2 separate regions of the Homo sapiens genome follow, and region 2 is linked to region 1. Evidence: fine-mapped expression QTL. Tissue or cell type: uterus. Region 1 holds a variant in brackets; the other region holds the start of a gene. All regions are shown on one strand. Distances are from middle to middle.

Region 1 (8,102 bases):
AGACCCCCTCTCTACTAAAAATTTAAAAACTTAGCCCAGTGTGGTTGCACCTGCCTGCAATCCCAGCTACTAGGGAGCTGAGGTGGGAGGATCGCTTGAGTCTGGAATGTCGAGGCTGCAGTGAGCTGCAATTGTGCCACTTGCACTTCAGCCTGGGTGACACAGTGAGATGATATCTCTGAAAAAAAAGAAACTGAACCAGGCTTATAAAATAATAATTATAAAATGGTTGCTTTTCTTTGGAGATGGAGAGAGGAAATGGGCAAGTTGTCATTTACCATGCCCTCACATTTTTGGTCTTAAATTACTGAGCTTTAGTATATATTAATATATATAAGATATGACCTGATAATCCCATTTAAAGCATATTAGCATTGTTCTAACAGTAACATATTTCATTATACTTCAGGATCATCCAGGGATGAAGCTTTACCATCCAGGAGCTCGAAGCCCAGGTCGATTCTGGTGGCAAGATGGCAGCACCAATCTGGAGATTCAGCAGTAGAAAGAAAGCAGGAAAGTGATATTAACCATAGAAAAGAAGGAGGAAGGGAGTGTTAAGTCCAGATGGCCTTAGGTGTACTGACTGTCTAGGCAGCCAAAGAGCACACGTTAAGCAATCCAGAAGTGCCTTCAGGGCAAAGAATAGAGAGAAAGGGGGTGGTTGTGCTGGTGGGGTACACTGCAGAGGAGTAAGTCTTGTGTCAAAGCAGGAATCTGATCAGAGGTTCAGAATTGGAAGTACAATTTCATTGCTTTTGCAATTTATACAAATTAATTTTAGTGTCAGAAAAAGCTGATGGTGAGGACATGCATTGCAATTTGCAGGGAAATGTCAAGTGAGGACTTCATTACGTATGACACGAGAGAAAAGTAAGAGCTGGTTCTAAAATCAAAAGCTGTTGTTCATCCCGAGTTGAATTTTCTTTTTTTTTTTTCTTTTTTTTTTTTTTTTTTTTTTTTAGACAGGGTCTCACCCTGTTGCCCAGCCTGGAGTACAGTGGCTCAATGTCGGTTCACTGCAACCTCCACCTCCTGGGTTCAACTGATTCTCCTGCCTCAGCCTCCCGAGTAGCTGGGATTACAGGTGCCCGCCACCTTGCCTGGCTAATTTTTGTATTTTTAGTAGACATGGGGTTTCACCACGTTGGCCACGCTGGTCTTGAACTCCTGACCTCAGGTGATTCCCCCCGCTTCGGCCTTCCAAAGTGCTGGGATTACAGGTATGAGCCACCGTGCCCGTCCATTCCAATCTAGTTTTATTGCATTGTTGATGATAACTGTTGACTTTGGGAAGTGTAGAAGCAACAAGCATGTCCTTGTAGTATAAGTACAGTGAAGGATAGAACAAACTTTTGTTGGTGCCAAAATTTAAATAGTCATGTTACTTCTGCATCTAATGTCCTAAAGTTTAAGGATTACTTTTAGTTTTTTGTTTGCTTACATGAGCTTAGCATGAAGAATATTTTCAAACATCTGCTTTTATCTTCAGCTTTTTTTATTTTTTATTATACTTTAAGTTTTAGGGTACATGTGCACATTGTGCAGGTTAGTTACATATGTATACATGTGCCATGCTGGTGTGCTGCACCCACTAACTCGTCATCTAGCATTAGGTATATCTCCCAATGCTATCCCTCCCCCCTCCCCCAACCCCACCACAGTCCCCAGAGTGTGATATTCCCCTTCCTGTGTCCATGTGATCTCATTGTTCAATTCCCACCTATGAGTGAGAATATGCGGTGTTTGGTTTTTTGTTCTTGCAATAGTTTACTGAGAATGATGATTTCCAGTTTCATCCATGTCCCTACAAAGGACATGAACTCATCATTTTTTATGGCTGCATAGTATTCCATGGTGTATATGTGCCACATTTTCTTAATCCAGTCTATCATTGTTGGACATTTGGGTTGGTTCCAAGTCTTTGCTATTGTGAATAATGCCGCAGTAAACATACGTGTGCATGTGTCTTTATAGCAGCATGATTTATAGTCCTTTGGGTATATACCCAGTAATGGGATGGCTGGGTCAAATGGTATTTCTAGTTCTAGATCCCTGAGGAATCGCCACACTGACTTCCACAATGGTTGAACTAGTTTACAGTCCCACCAACAGTGTAAAAGTGTTCCTATTTCTCCACATCCTCTCCAGCACCTGTTGTTTCCTGACTTTTTAATGATTGCCATTCTAACTGGTGTGAGATGGTATCTCATTGTGGTTTTGATTTGCATTTCTCTGATGGCCAGGGATGATGAGCATTTTTTCATGTGTTTTTTGGCTGCATAAATGTCTTCTTTTGAGAAGTGTCTGTTCATGTCCTTAGCCCACTTTTTGATGGGGTTGTTTTTTCTTGTAAATTTATTTGAGGTCATTGTAGATTCTGGATATTAGCCCTTCGTCAGATGAGTAGGTTGCGAAAATTTTCTCCCATTTTGTAGGTTGCCTGTTCACCCTGATGGTAGTTTCTTTTGCTGTGCAGAAGCTCTTTAGTTTAATTAGATCCCATTGGTAGTCCTTGTTTGATTCTTGACAATCCAGTGTGTGTTTTATCTTAGGTCTCATGATCTGAGTGTGTACCCTCTCCAGGAAGGAAACTGCATCAATGTCTGTTCCTGTTAAATAGCAACTTTTAGTCTCAGCTTGTTTTGTTTTGATGTCAATAAATAGTAACAACATTCAAGTATGAAGCTAAGTGTGTTTATTAACTTCACTAAATAGCTGTTATATTTGAGAAATTAAATTTTTGATACTGAATTAACCTCTGGAGAATTTCAAAAGTGCATGAATGATATTAGTTTCTGCTTTCACTGGCATGCCTTTGTTTTGTCTACCAGGGAAAAATCAGTTCATGGTTCACTCCTATATTAGGCCTGATGTTTTTTGGCTGTGCCCCCACCCACATCTCATCTTGAATTCCTACATGTTGTGTGAGGGACCCAGTGAGAGGTAATTGAATAATGGGGCAGGTCTTTCCTGTGCTGTTCCCATGATAGTGAAGAAGTCTCACAAGATCTGATGGTTTCATAAAGAGGAGTTCCCCGGCACAAGCTCTTTTTGTCCTGCTGCCATCCATGTAAGACATGACTTGCTCCTCCTTGCCTTCTGCCATAATTGTGGGGCCTCCCTACCCATGTGGAACTGTGAGTCCATTAAAGCCTCTTTTCCATCCCAGTTTCGGGTATGTCTTTTTTTTTTTTTTTTTTTTTTTTTGAGACAAGGTCTTACTCTGTCACCCAGGCTGGAGTGCAGTGGCGTGATCTCAACTCACTGAAACCTCCACCTCCCAGATTCAAGCAATTCTCCTGCCTCAGCCTCCCTAGTAGCTGAGATTACAGCCATCCGCCACCGTGCCTGGCTAAATTTCGTATTTTTAGTAGAGATGGGAATTCACCATGTTGGCCAGGCTGGTCTTGAACTCCCGACCTCAGGTGATCCACTGCCTCGGCCTCCCAAAGTGCTGGGATTACAGGCATGAGCCACCACTCCTGGCCTCGGGTATGTCTTTATCAGCAGTGTGAAAACGAACTAATACAGGCTGTTCTTACATTATTATAAAGAAATACCTGGCCGGGGCTGGGGGCAGTGGCATATGCCTGTAATCCCAGCATTTTGGGAGGCTGAGGTGGGTGGATCACGAGGTTAGGAGTTTGAGACCAGCCTGGCCAACATGGTGAAACCACATCTCTACTAAAAATACAAAAAATTAGCTGGGCGTGGTGGCACACGCCTGTAGTCCCCAGCTACTCAGAAGGCGGAGGCAGAAGAATCACTTGAACCAGGGAGGTGGAGGTTGCAGTGAGCCGAGATTGTGCCACTGTACTCCAGTCTGGGTGACAGAGTGAGACTCCATCTCAAAAAAAGAAAAAAAAAAAATACCTGGCCAGGTGCAGTGGCTCCCGCCTGTAATCCCAACACTTTGGAAGGCTGAGATGGGCGGATCACTTGAGGTCAGGAG[T/C]TTGAGACCAGCCTGGCCAAAATGATGAAACCCCATCTCTACTAAAAATACAAAAATTAGCCAGGCATGGTGGCAGGTGCCTGTAATCCCAGCTGCTCAGGAGGCTGAGGCAGGAGAATCACTTGAACCCAGGAAGGTGGAGGCTGCAATGAGCCGAGATCACACCACTGCACTCCAGCCTGGGCAACAGAATGAGACTCTGCCTCAGAAAAATAAATAAATAAATAAATAAATAAATACCTGAGACTGGATAATTTATAAGAAAAGAGATTTAATTGGCTCCCAGTTCTGCAGGCTGTACAGGAAGTGTGGCACTGGTATCTGCTCGAGTTTTGGGAAAGCCTCAGGGAGCTTTTACTCATGGTGGAAAGTGAAGCAGAAGACATCCCACATCACAGAGTGAGCAAGAGAGTGAGTGCGGGGAGGAGGTGCCACACTTTACAACAACCAGCTCTGTAAAACTCACTATGGAGAGGACAGCACCAAGCCATGAGGGATCTGCCCCATAACCCCAACACCCCACCAGGCCCCACCTACAACACTGGGGATTATATTTCCATGAGATTTGGGTGGGGACAAATATCCAAACCACATCAACTATTCTGGTCCCTTAAGAACAAAATGTTTAGACAACATCCTTGAGCTTTTGCCTGATTTTCATTCATTCTGCCAGCCCTTCCTAACATGGCATCACTTTGCCTTTACTTTCTAAATAACTTTGTTTCCTCAGCTTTTAGAAACAAGTAGCCCAAGAGGGAGGTACAAGAGCCACCAAAAATGATTGAAAGTGAATGACTGTCAGATGGGCGAGAGGATTAAGGGAAGGGAAAATTTCAAGAAGGAGATTGGCTGACATTGTCCCATGCCACAGAGAGATTAAGGAAGACAAGAAATGGAAGTGTTCATTGGATTTGGCAGTCGTGATTTCATTAGTGAACTAATGAAACTGATGACCTAAAAGAGATAGAAACCATGTTATAGTGAGGGGTGAATGGCAGGTGGGAAATGGATGTATGGATTTGGAATTCATCCATTTTTAGGGGTCCATTGAAGTCATGACCATGGATTCTGTCACTTTATGGGGAGAGAGTGAAGTAGGAACAGAAGCAGACCTAGGGCCCAGCCTTAAAGAACTCTTAACATTACACAGAGGTAAGGAAATGTATCTACAAAGACAGAAAGAATAGCCAGAGTAGGAGAAATACCAGAAGACTCCGGTGTTACTTAATCCAAGAGAAAAGTGTTTCAAGGAGGAGGAGTGGCCAGCAAGGTTGGCCACTAAAAATACGGCTGGGCGTGGTGGCTCATGCTTGAAATGCCAGCACTTCGGGAGGCCGAGGCGGGAGGATCACTTGAGGTCAGGACTTCAAGACCAGCTTGGCCAACATGGTGAAACCCCACCCCTACTAAAAATACAAAAATTAGCCGGGCGTGGTAGTGCACATCTGCAATCCAAGCTACTTGGGAGGCTGAGGCAGGAGAATTGCTTGAACCTGAGAGATGGAGGTTGCAGTGAGCCAAGATCGCGCCACTGCACTGCTGCCTGGGTGACAGACTGAGACTCTGTCTCAAAAAAATAAACACCAAAAAAAAAAAAAAAGAAAAAATATTAAAAATACAAAAGTCAGCCAGGCGTGTTGGCACAAGCCTGTGGTCCCAGCTACTCAGGAGGCTGTGTCAGGAGAATTGCTTGAACCCAGGAGGCAGAGGTTGCAGTGAGCCAAGATCACACCAGTGCACTCCAGCCTGGGCAAGAGAGCAAGACTCTGTCAAGAAGAAAGAAAGGAAGGAGGAAAAAAATGGAAAGGAAGGAAGGAAGGAAAAAGAAAGAAAAGAGGAAAGAAAGGGAGGGAGGGAGGAAGGGAAAGAAAGAAAAGGGAGGGAGGGAGGGAGGGAAGAAAGGAAGGAAGGAAAAAAGGAAAGAAGGAAGGAAGGAGAGAAAGGGAGAAAGAGAAAAAGGAGGAGGAAGGAAGGAGAAAGAGAAAGGAAGGAAAGAAAAGAGAAAGAAAAGGGAGGGAGGGAGAAAGGAAGGGAAAGAGAAGAAGGAAGGAAGGAAAAGGAAATAAGGAAAGAAGGAAGGAGAAAGAAAAAAGAAAGAAGGAGGGAGGGAGGGAAAGAGAAGGAGGGAGGGAGGGAAAGAGAAAGAGAGAGAAAGAAAAAGAAAAAGAGAAAGAAAAGGAAGCAAGGAAAAGAGTGAGAGGGAGGGAAGGAGGAAGGAAAGAGGGAAGGAGAGAGGGAGGGAGGGAGGAATGAAAGAAGGAAGGAAGGAAAAAAGGAAGGAAAGGAGGGAGAGAGAAGAGGGAGGGAGGAAGGAAGGAAAGAAGGAAGGAAAGGAAAGAAGGAAAGAAGGAAGGAAAGAAAGAAAAAAAGGAGAAAGGAAAGAAAGAAAGAAAAAAAAAGAAAGAGAAAGAGAAAGAAAAATGAGCCGGGCATGAGAGCTCTTCCAGGTAATCCTAGCATTTGGGAGGCTGAGGTGGGAGCATCACTTGAACTTAGGAGTTCGAGACTAGCCTGGGCAACATAGTGAGACCCTGTCTCTATTAAAAAAAATAAAAAATGTTGGCCTGGCACAGTGCCTCACACCTGTAATTCTAGCACTTTGGGAGGCCAAGGTGGGATGATTGCTTGAGCTCAGGAGTTCAAGACCAGCCTGGGCAATATAGTGAGACCCCACTTCTAAAAAAAATGAAATACTGATTCATGCTACAACATGGATGAACCTTGAAAACATTATGCTAAGTGAAAGAAAGCAGACACAAAAGGCTACATATTGTGTCTCCATTTATATAAAATATCCAGAATAGGCAAATCCACAGAGACGGAAAATAGATTAGTGGTTTCCTAGGGCTGAGAGAAGAGTGGGAATGAAAGAGTGACTGCTAGGCCAGGCACGGTGGCTCACATCTGTAATCCTAGCACTTTGGGAGGCTGAGGCGGGTGGATCACCTGAGGTCAAGAGTTCAAGACCAGCTGGGCCAACATGGCAAAACCCCATCTCCACTAAAAATACAAAATTAGCCAGGCGTGGTGGCACATGCCTGTAATCCCAGCTACTTGGGAGGCTGAGGTAGGAGAATCACTAGAACCCAGGAGGCGGAGGTTGCAGTGAGCTGAGTTCATGCCACTGCACTCCAGCCTGGGTGACAGAGACTCTATCTCAAAAATAAATAAAATAAAATAAAATAGTGGCCGGTGCGGTGGCTGACACCTGTAATCCCAGCACTCTGGGAGGCCGAGGTGGGCAGATCACCTGAGGTCAGGAGTTCAAGACCAGCGTGGCCAACATGGTGAAACCCTGCCTCTACTAAAAATACAAAAATTAGCTGGGTGTGGTGGTGCATGCCTGTAATCCCAGCTACTTGGGAGGTTGGGGCAGGAGAATCGCTTGAACTCGGGAGGCCGAGGTTGCAGTGAGCTGAGATCACGCCATTGCACTCCAGCCTGACAGAGCAAGACTCTGTCTCAAAAATAAAATAAAATAAAAAAACGGTGATTTTCATATTACGTGAATTGTATCTCACTTAAAGAATGGGAGAGAAGTTGGAAACAGTGAATGAAGACAAATCTTTACCAGGGTTTTGTTGTAAAGGGAAGGAGAAGAAGAAGTAGCTGGCAAGGGAGTTGGAGTAAAAAGCAGCTTTTTTAAGATGACAGCATATTTATTTGTATGTTGATGGGAATAATGCAGTGAACAGCAAGGACAGAAAGGGAAGACTAGTCAGAGCAGGGTTGTTGAATGGGCGAGAGAGGTTTGGATCTAGGGCACAAGCGAGCAGACAGGCCGGACATAGTTCAAACGTTTCATTCACAGTAACAGAGGGATGGGGGAATAGTCACGTGGAGGTGTTGGCAGATAGCATGTGTGGATGGGCTGTGGGAGTTCTCTTGTGATTGCTTAAATTTTCTCAGTGACTAGGAAGCCAGGTCCTCAACTGAGTGTGAGAATGGAGGAAGAAGGGTTGCAGGTTTGAGGAGGGAGAGGAGAGTCTTGACATAATTATCTAGGCCTAGGCTCAGCAAATTACAGCCTATGGACCAAACCTGGCCACTGCGTGTTTTTGTACAGCCTGAGAGCTAAGAATGGTTTCTGTATTTTTGAATGGTTGAAAAAAATCAAAAGAATATTTTGGGACACATGACAATTCTA
Region 2 (8,102 bases), 49 kb before region 1:
AGATGTGAACTACTGATGAAAACTGGTGGAAAATGTTGTTTACTGAAACTACGAGGAAGTTAAACTTTACAATGGAGGACAAAGAACTGAACATACTGACATACTGATTCTTTGAAGAGAGATCTAGATCTCACTGTATCCAACAGCCAATATGGTGAAACCCCATTTCTACTAAAAATACAAAAATTAGCCGGGCGTGGTGGCACACGCCTGTACTCCCAGCTACTCGGGAGGCTGAGGCAGAAGAATCGCTTGAACCCGGGAGGTGGAGGTTGCAGTGAGCCAAGATGTAAGCCAAGATGGCGCCACTGCACCTCAGCCTGGGCGACAGAGCGAGATTCCGTCTCTAAATAAATAAATAAAGAAATCTCAGTCATAAATGTTGAGAGAAAGGAGCCTAACATAAAAGAATACATGCTGTATGATTCAATTTACATAAAGTTCAAAACAGACAAACTCAATAGTATTAGAAGTCATTCATAAAAGGATGTAGCTGCTAAAAAAGAAAAAGCAAAAAGGATAGTGGTATTCTTGGTGGCGAAAATGACTGGGAACAAGTAGGAAGAGAGCATCTGGAGTGCTGGCAATGTTTTGTTTCTTGATCTACATGCTGGTTACATAAGTGTGTTCACTTTGTGAAAATTCAGCAAGCTGGATGCTTACTTTTAGTGCACTTGTCTGTACATCTGTTATACTGCAATTAAAAGTTTCATCAAAAAGGAAGTCTACAGTATGTGTTAGGTAGAATAATATCTCCCCCAAAGTTGTACACATCCTAATCCCCAGAACCCATGACTGTGTTAGGTTATATAGCAAAAGGAAATTAATGTTGCTAATCAGCTGTCCTTAAAATAGGGAGATTATCCTGGATTTTACAGGCGGACACAATGTAAACACAGGAGTCCTTCAAAGTGAAAGGGGAAAGTGCAGAGGCCAGGAGTTGGAGACCAGCCTGGGCAACACAGTGAGACCCCTTCTCTACAAAAATGAAAATAAATTAGCTGGGCATGGTGGCATGCACCTGTAGTCCCAGCTATTTGGGAGGCTAAGGCAGGAGGATCACTTCAGCTCAGGAGTTTAAGCCTTCAGTGAACTGTGACCCTGAAAAAAAAACTTGGAATGGCAAGGCAGAGAATAAAAGAGATATAGACAATAGACAGAAGTAGGGGCAGGGTCAGAGAGAGATGCTTGAAGACGAAGGGTTCATAAGCCAAGGAATATGGGCCGCCTCAAGAATCTGAAAAAGACAAGGAAATCTATTATCTCCTAGAGCCTCCAGGAAGGAACTCAGTCCTGCCAACACCTTGATTTTAGCCCAGTGAGACCCATATTGGACTGTTTGTTTATTTATTATTACTATATTTTTTTGCCCCCTCACAGGACAAAGCTAAAACCTTGTTGGACTTTTAACCTACAGAACTGTAAGATAATACACTTGCATTATTTAAACCCACTAAATTTGTGGTAATGTTACAGCAGGAATAGGAGGCTAATACAGTTGGTGTGGGGGAAGATCAAGTGTTCAGTTTTGGATGCATTCGGTGGCTGAACACGTTAGACGTCTTAAGTGGAGATGTTCAATAGGCAGTTGGATACATGACTCTGGAAATCATCAGGGAGGTATGGGCTGGAGATGTAAATTCTTTTTTTGTTTTGTTTTGGTTTTGAGACGGAGTCTCGCTCTGTCGCCCAGACTGGAGTGCACTGGCACAATCTCGGCTCACTGCAACCTCGACCTCCTGGGTTCAAGCGAATCACCTGCCTCAGCCTCCTGAGTAGCTGGGATTATAGCTGCCTGCCACCACGCCCGGCTAATTTTTTTGTATTTTTAGTAGAGACGGGATGTCACATGTTGGCCAGGCTGGTCTCGAACTCCCGACCTCAGGTGATCCACCCGCCTCGGCCTCCCAAAGTGCTGAGATTACAGCTGTGAGCCACCACGCCCGGCCTGGACATGTAAATTCTAGAGTAGAGTTGTCAGCAAAGACAGAAAAGCCAAAAGAATGAATGAGATTAATAAAGGAGTGAGTGTACATAGAAAAGAGGTCTAAGGACTGAGCCCTGGGACACTTTATTCTGGCAACTGACAAACAGCTGGTGGTTTAAAGCTAGTGAGGACACCAAAACAGAGGCATACACTACCAACATGCAAGTGCAGAGCTAAGCAGTAGGTCAGAGGCAGATGCATAAACAAGGCTCATAAGAACGGCCAGGTACTGAAAGCAAGAGTAACAGATGTCAAATACAGGGAAACCGTTTTAGCCACAGGAATAGGAATCCAAGAATAGGCTGGACAATTGGAGTGAGAAAATTTAAGTGCAGAGTCAGGGGAATATATTCTAGAGGTCGGCAAAAATGGGAGTTGGCCCTTAGGCAGCTTTCTGCCTTGGGCTCCTATTGCATCTTTAATTTGGTTTCTGTCCTCTATGGGTGTCTGTGTCTCTCTCTCTTTTTGAGATGGAGTCTCACTCTGTCACCCAGGTTGGAGTGCGGTGGCACAACCTCGGCTCACTGCAACCTCCGCCTCCCAGGTTCAAGTGACTCTCCTGCCTCAGCCTCCCAAATAGCTGGGACTACAGGCGCCTGCCACCATGCCCAGATAATTTTTGTATTTTAGTAGAGACAGGGTTTCACCAAGTTGGCCAGGCTGGTGTCGAACTCCTGATCTCAGGTGATCCGCCGGCCTCGGCCTCTCAAAGTGCTGGGATTACAGGAATGTGCCACCACGCCCTGCTAATTTTTTTTGTTTTTAGTAGAGACAGGGTTTCGCCAAGTTAGCCAGGCTGGTCTCGAACTCCTGACCTCAGGTGATCCACCCACCTTGGCCTCCTAAAGTGCTGGGATTACAGGCGTGAGCCACCACGCCTGGCCGACTGATCTGCTTTCTATCACTGTGGTTTTATTTTTCTAAAATTTCATATAAATGGAATTGTACAACATGTACTCTGTGTCTAGATTCTGTCACTCAACATAATCACTGTTAGATTCACATTTGGATTGTTTCCAGTTTGGAGTTATTATAAATAATGTAAAATTGGCCCTTTTTAAGTGAAGATGGTGATCGCAACTAAATCAAGTTGGGTTTTATTTTTATTCCCCTCCCTGTGGGACATCAGTACCTGGGGAGAAGGATCCTTTTGCTAAAATAAGGTGATGAAAACAAATCTTGTATATTTTAGTCATATTACTCCTTTAAATATCAGTATCTTGTGTTTATTTATTATTATCCTTCTTTTTTATATACAGGGTCTCGCTCTGTCGCCCAAGCTGGAGTGCAGCGGCGCGATCATGGCTCACTGCAGCCTCGAATTCCTGGGCTCAAGATCCTCTCTTCTCAACCTTCCCGAGCAGCTGGGACTACAGGCGTGCGCCACTGAACTCGGCTAATATTGTAGTATTTACTAAGTATCTGTAAATCCTAATCAATATAAGGAAAATAAAGTTTTTTAAATGTTAGGCTTTTTCTTTTAGTTGTAGGAAAATAAATGCTAAAGCCTCTGAATTCAATGATAAAAAATACAAGTCGCTCCCCTAGTGAGGCAAAATTTGGACGGCATTGAGTTTATCTGATGGAAACTAAGCGTGAAGAACCTATCTTTCGACCTGGAAAACTCTGAAGATGAAAGGATTCGATTTACTCACAAACAGGGACCCTGAGATAGCTCTGGCCCCTGAACGCCCAACAAAAGCGGGTAGCTGCTTTGTATGCCGGGATTTGTAGTCCCCGACAGAGTCACTTCAAGATGGCGGAATTGCTAATGACGCGCGAAGGGGCGGGCCCCGAGGGAGTCTGGGCCGCGAGGGGATTGGGTGGCGCAGGAACTTGGCGGGCGGGAAGTAAAAACCAGGTGTTAAAACCTTTGCACTGGGAAAGGCCCAAGTCTCGCGAGAGCTTGGCAGGACCCAATGGAACGTGGGGCCCGACTTATCACAAGGGGCATTTGTTGGGGGCGGAGCTTTGACGGGAGCTTCCCGGGAGCCGTTTGTGCCCGGGGTAACCCCGTTCCGGCCAAGCCGCTTCAGCGGGGGACGTAGCCATGAAGGAAGAGAAGGAGCACAGGCCTAAGGAGAAGCGAGTAACCCTGTTAACCCCCGCCGGGGCCACAGGCAGCGGTGGTGGGACCTCGGGGGACAGCTCCAAGGGGGAAGATAAGCAGGATCGCAACAAGGAGAAGAAAGAAGCGCTGAGCAAGGTGCCCGGTCGGCCGCTGGCCCGGGAGAGGGCGGGACGAGTCCGCAGCGCGGGGAGGATGGCTGGGAATGGGGCTGCCCCCTTTCTTTCTCAGGTTCTCCTTCTATCTCTTCGCCTGAATGGAAGTCGCATCATCCTGGTTCATCCATTCACCCGAAATGGGGAGAGCCCCTCCCGGCCAAATCCTGGGTGGGGGTGAGGAAAAGAGGGGACTCCCCAAACGGGAAGGGTTTAGGTCAGAGCTGTGAGATGATAATGGGAGGGAAGAGCGACGGTATAAAGAATGAGGAACTAAAGGTGTAATTGGGGAGAAATATTAAATAGTGAAGGAGACATGAGGGATGGGAATATTATTCATGGAGGCGAGTTGGGGGAGAGTGCAGGGTGATTAATGGTACAGGAGGGTAGATCGAGAGCATCCTATTTTGAGAGCAATGGGTAGATTTTTTGTATTCGTTAGAGTTTTGAATTCTTAAGTTCAATGGGCAAGGATTTTGTTTTAAGATGTGTTGGACGTGGGAGAAACTTGTTGCTAAATCAAGATTTCGTGGCACCCACAAAGACCAGCGTTGGCTTACTAAGTTATTGCCACTAGATCTGTTAAAAAATGGGTGATCGAAAATGATGCACAAACCTGGTAAACTGCAGGGCTGCTGTAAAGAGCAAAACCTGCGATTTTTCCTTGCTCCAGGTGGTTCTCATTTCCAAGGGTTTTTTTAAACCGCGTTACTATTATGTTTGACTAATTCTGAGCATTGGGCTGCAGAAGAATATTTTCTCCTGGGTTTTTACAAGTGATCTCATATTTTAAAGCCCAGCCTTCTTCAGGAACTGTGATTCTTTCAGGTATGACAGAAAACTGATTTGTACTAATTTTATTTTCCTTATGCATTTCTTAAGGTGGTAATTCGAAGATTACCTCCCACTTTGACCAAGGAGCAGCTTCAGGAACATCTTCAACCTATGCCTGAGCATGATTATTTTGAGTTTTTTTCTAATGATACGAGGTAAAAAAAAAAAAAAAAGGAAAGGGGTAAATGAAAAAGGTTTCTTTCATTCTTTTTATCCTACTGTTTTTCATTTGATTTTTGAGCTTGTCTTTAATATATGCATACTTGTAATTGGGCCAGACACCTGCGAGTACATTTACATAATTGCTTTCCTCTCTGCAGTTTGTATCCTCATATGTATGCCAGAGCATACATCAACTTTAAAAACCAAGAGGACATTATTTTGTTCAGGGATCGCTTTGATGGTTATGTATTCCTTGACAATAAAGGTGAGTCCTGGTAACTGAAGTAAAAAGGGAATTTCTTTGTCATTTGTATGTTTAAGACAACTCGTGCATTGCGTTGCTTCCTAGAGTTTTACACATTTAATAAGCTTATTGCAGTCTTATAAATAGACGTGACTTTTCACAGTCCTTGGTTATTTTTATTAACCTACTATTTTTTTAGTTTGATCAACTGAGTGAAATTGCAACTGTTTTCTCCTCGTGTGACACATTTTTTGCCCTGGCTTAAACCTGCTGTTTTGACTGTAGAATTTCAGCCGCAGTACTGATAAGTGACTCTTAAACTTGTTTGATAAGTTTTAAATATTTACTTCTTATTTTGCTTCGAGGACAAACATTTATTTAATTCAAATCCATTAAGCCAACAGTTCCCAATTGGGATACTGTTTAACATTCTCACAAAGTTGTATATAATTAAAACATGAAACTTGATACATCTCGGCCTGGTGTGGTGGCTCACGCCTGTTATCCCAGCACTTTGGGATGCCGAGGCAGGTGGATCACGAGGTCAGGAGATCGAGACCAGCCTGGCCAACGTGGTGAAACCCCATCTCTACTAAAAATGCTAAAAAAATTAGCCAGGCGTGGCGGTCCACGCCTGTAATCCCAGCTACTTGGGAGGCTGAGGCAGAAGAATCGCTTGAACCTGGGAGGCAGAGGTTGCAGTGAGCTGAGATCACGCCACTGCACTCCAGCCTGGCGACAGAGCGAGACTCTGTCTCAAAATCGAAAAAAAGAAACTTGATACATCTCTTACTTTATATCCAGAAAGGTCCAGTCTATAGGGAAGACACATTTCTACTTTAACACTCTATTATCTGCTACCTACATTTAGCCAGAGAATATCTAAGCTGCCATTTGCCACTTTTCTTTTTGGTTTGCAATTATAGGTAAATAGTGTGTCTTCTTGTTTTGTTTTGTTTTTTTCAATATTACTTCAAAGTTGGTAAAAATTAAATTTTTGTCAGGGACTATGCCAGTAAAAATTGAAGGATTGCCACTGTTTGTCCAACTTTTATTAATCTCCCCAAGCCAGCTATTTTTCCACTCCAACTATTTTATTCCAGTAGATATTTAACTAGATTCTAGTTACTTAGCCTGGAAATCTGAGTTGTGTTTAATTTTTTCCTTTTTTAAAAATCTCTTACATGTAAGTTATGAATCTTGTCAATTTATTGTTTATCTTTTGAGATAGGGTCTCCACCCAGGCTGGAGTGCTGTGGCGCAATCAGAGCTCACTGCAGCCTGGAATTCCTGGACTCAAGCAATCCTCCCACCTCAGCCTCCTGAGTAGCTGGGACTACAGATGTATGTCACCATGCCTGGCTAATTTTCTTTAAATTTTTTATAGAGATGGGGTCTCACTACGTTGCCCAGGCTGGTCTTGAACTCCTGGGCTCAAGTGATTTCCCCCCCCCCACCTCAGCCTCCCAAAGTGCTGGGATTACAGGTGCGAGCCACCATACCCAGCTCAACACCACTTATTAAAGAGACTATCCTTTCCTCATTGTGTTTTTTGTTTGTTTGTTTGTTTTGTTTTGTTTTTAAATCTTAGAGACAAGGTCTGCTTATGTTGCCCAGGCTGGATTTTATTGTTTTTTTTTAATATCTTGTTCACCTAGCCTTAAACAGTCACACTTTATGTCCTCATCACTTAATGCCTAGACAACCACTGTCTCTAAACTTACAGGATTTTCCATTTTTTTCATTCTTGTATAATTCAGTCTATTATATTGCCATGAAATTAATCTTTTTGAAAATAATGATTTAAATTAACAGTTGGGGGAAAAAGTCCAAACTCCTTAGCCTGGTAGTCAGGGTCCTCCATATTCTGGCCTCACTTCTGTTTCTTCAGCCTGTCTTCCACAATTTCCCTCTGTTTCAGTCTGGTTTATCTATTCCTTCTCAAATATATCACAGTTTTGTTTTTTGGTTTTTATTTTTGTTTTTTTTCTTTTTCTTCTCTCTCTCTCTCTTTTTTTTTTTGAGACAGAGTCTTAACTCTGTCGCCCAGGCTGGAGTACAGTGGCACAATCTTGGCTCATTACAACCTCCGCCTCCTGGGTTCAAGCAATTCTCGTTCCTCAGCCTGCCGACTTAGCTGGGATTACAGGTGTGTGCCGCCACGCCCAGCTAATTTTTGTAATTTTAGGAGATGGGGTTTCACCATGTTGGCCAGGCTGGTCTCAAACTCCTGGCCTCAAGCAATCCACCCGCCTCAGCCTCCCAAAGTGCTGGGATTACAGGCGTGAGCCACCATGCCTGGCCTAATATATCACAGTTTTGAAGCTAATCTGATTCTCTACTCACTGGGATTCCCAACATAATTTTTCCTCCATGACTGCTTTGCAGTGCCTTCTGGTCAATTCTGTTTATTTTTATTTTTCTGCTTATGTCTACATGCCAATGATTTAAGGATAGGATACCTTGTTTTTGACATTCTGTGACAGGGTGCTTGTGAATTTTTTTCCCATTAGTCACTTGGGGTTTTTGTATTGAAATATAACTCACCTATAATAAAATTCATCCTCTTAAAGCGTACAATTCAGTGGTTTCTGGTATATTCACAAGGTAGTACAACCATCAGTACTAATTCCAGAATGTTTTCATCCCTCC

Which allele goes with the higher level. Alleles are on the strand shown, and positions count from the first base shown. SD is a standard deviation of normalised expression in the study named.
With allele T in place of C in region 1, the expression in uterus of the gene that starts at base 4,003 in region 2 is lower (moderate effect, 0.53 SD a copy in GTEx).

Evidence for each region. PIP is the estimated chance that this variant, and not a neighbour inherited with it, causes the effect.
Region 2: it holds the start of UPF3B, and the variant in region 1 is fine-mapped to the expression of UPF3B in uterus (GTEx, PIP 0.95).

The regions. Positions count from the first base shown.
Region 1 is chrX:119,799,889-119,807,990 of GRCh38, reverse strand. It overlaps LOC107985694 (a long non-coding RNA gene), which reads right to left. Exons shown (of 3, transcript XR_001755949.2): 3 at 1-2,612. It also overlaps a transcript of UPF3B not described here. Among named protein-coding and RNA genes, the nearest start is that of RPL39, 12 kb to the right of the region's middle. The variant T/C (reference allele first, on the strand shown) is at 3,956.
Region 2 is chrX:119,848,864-119,856,965 of GRCh38, reverse strand. It overlaps UPF3B (UPF3B regulator of nonsense mediated mRNA decay), which reads left to right and starts at 4,003. Exons shown (of 11, transcript NM_080632.3): 1 at 4,003-4,193; 2 at 5,093-5,199; 3 at 5,365-5,471. The coding sequence starts at 4,038. RefSeq lists an enhancer at 3,969-4,028.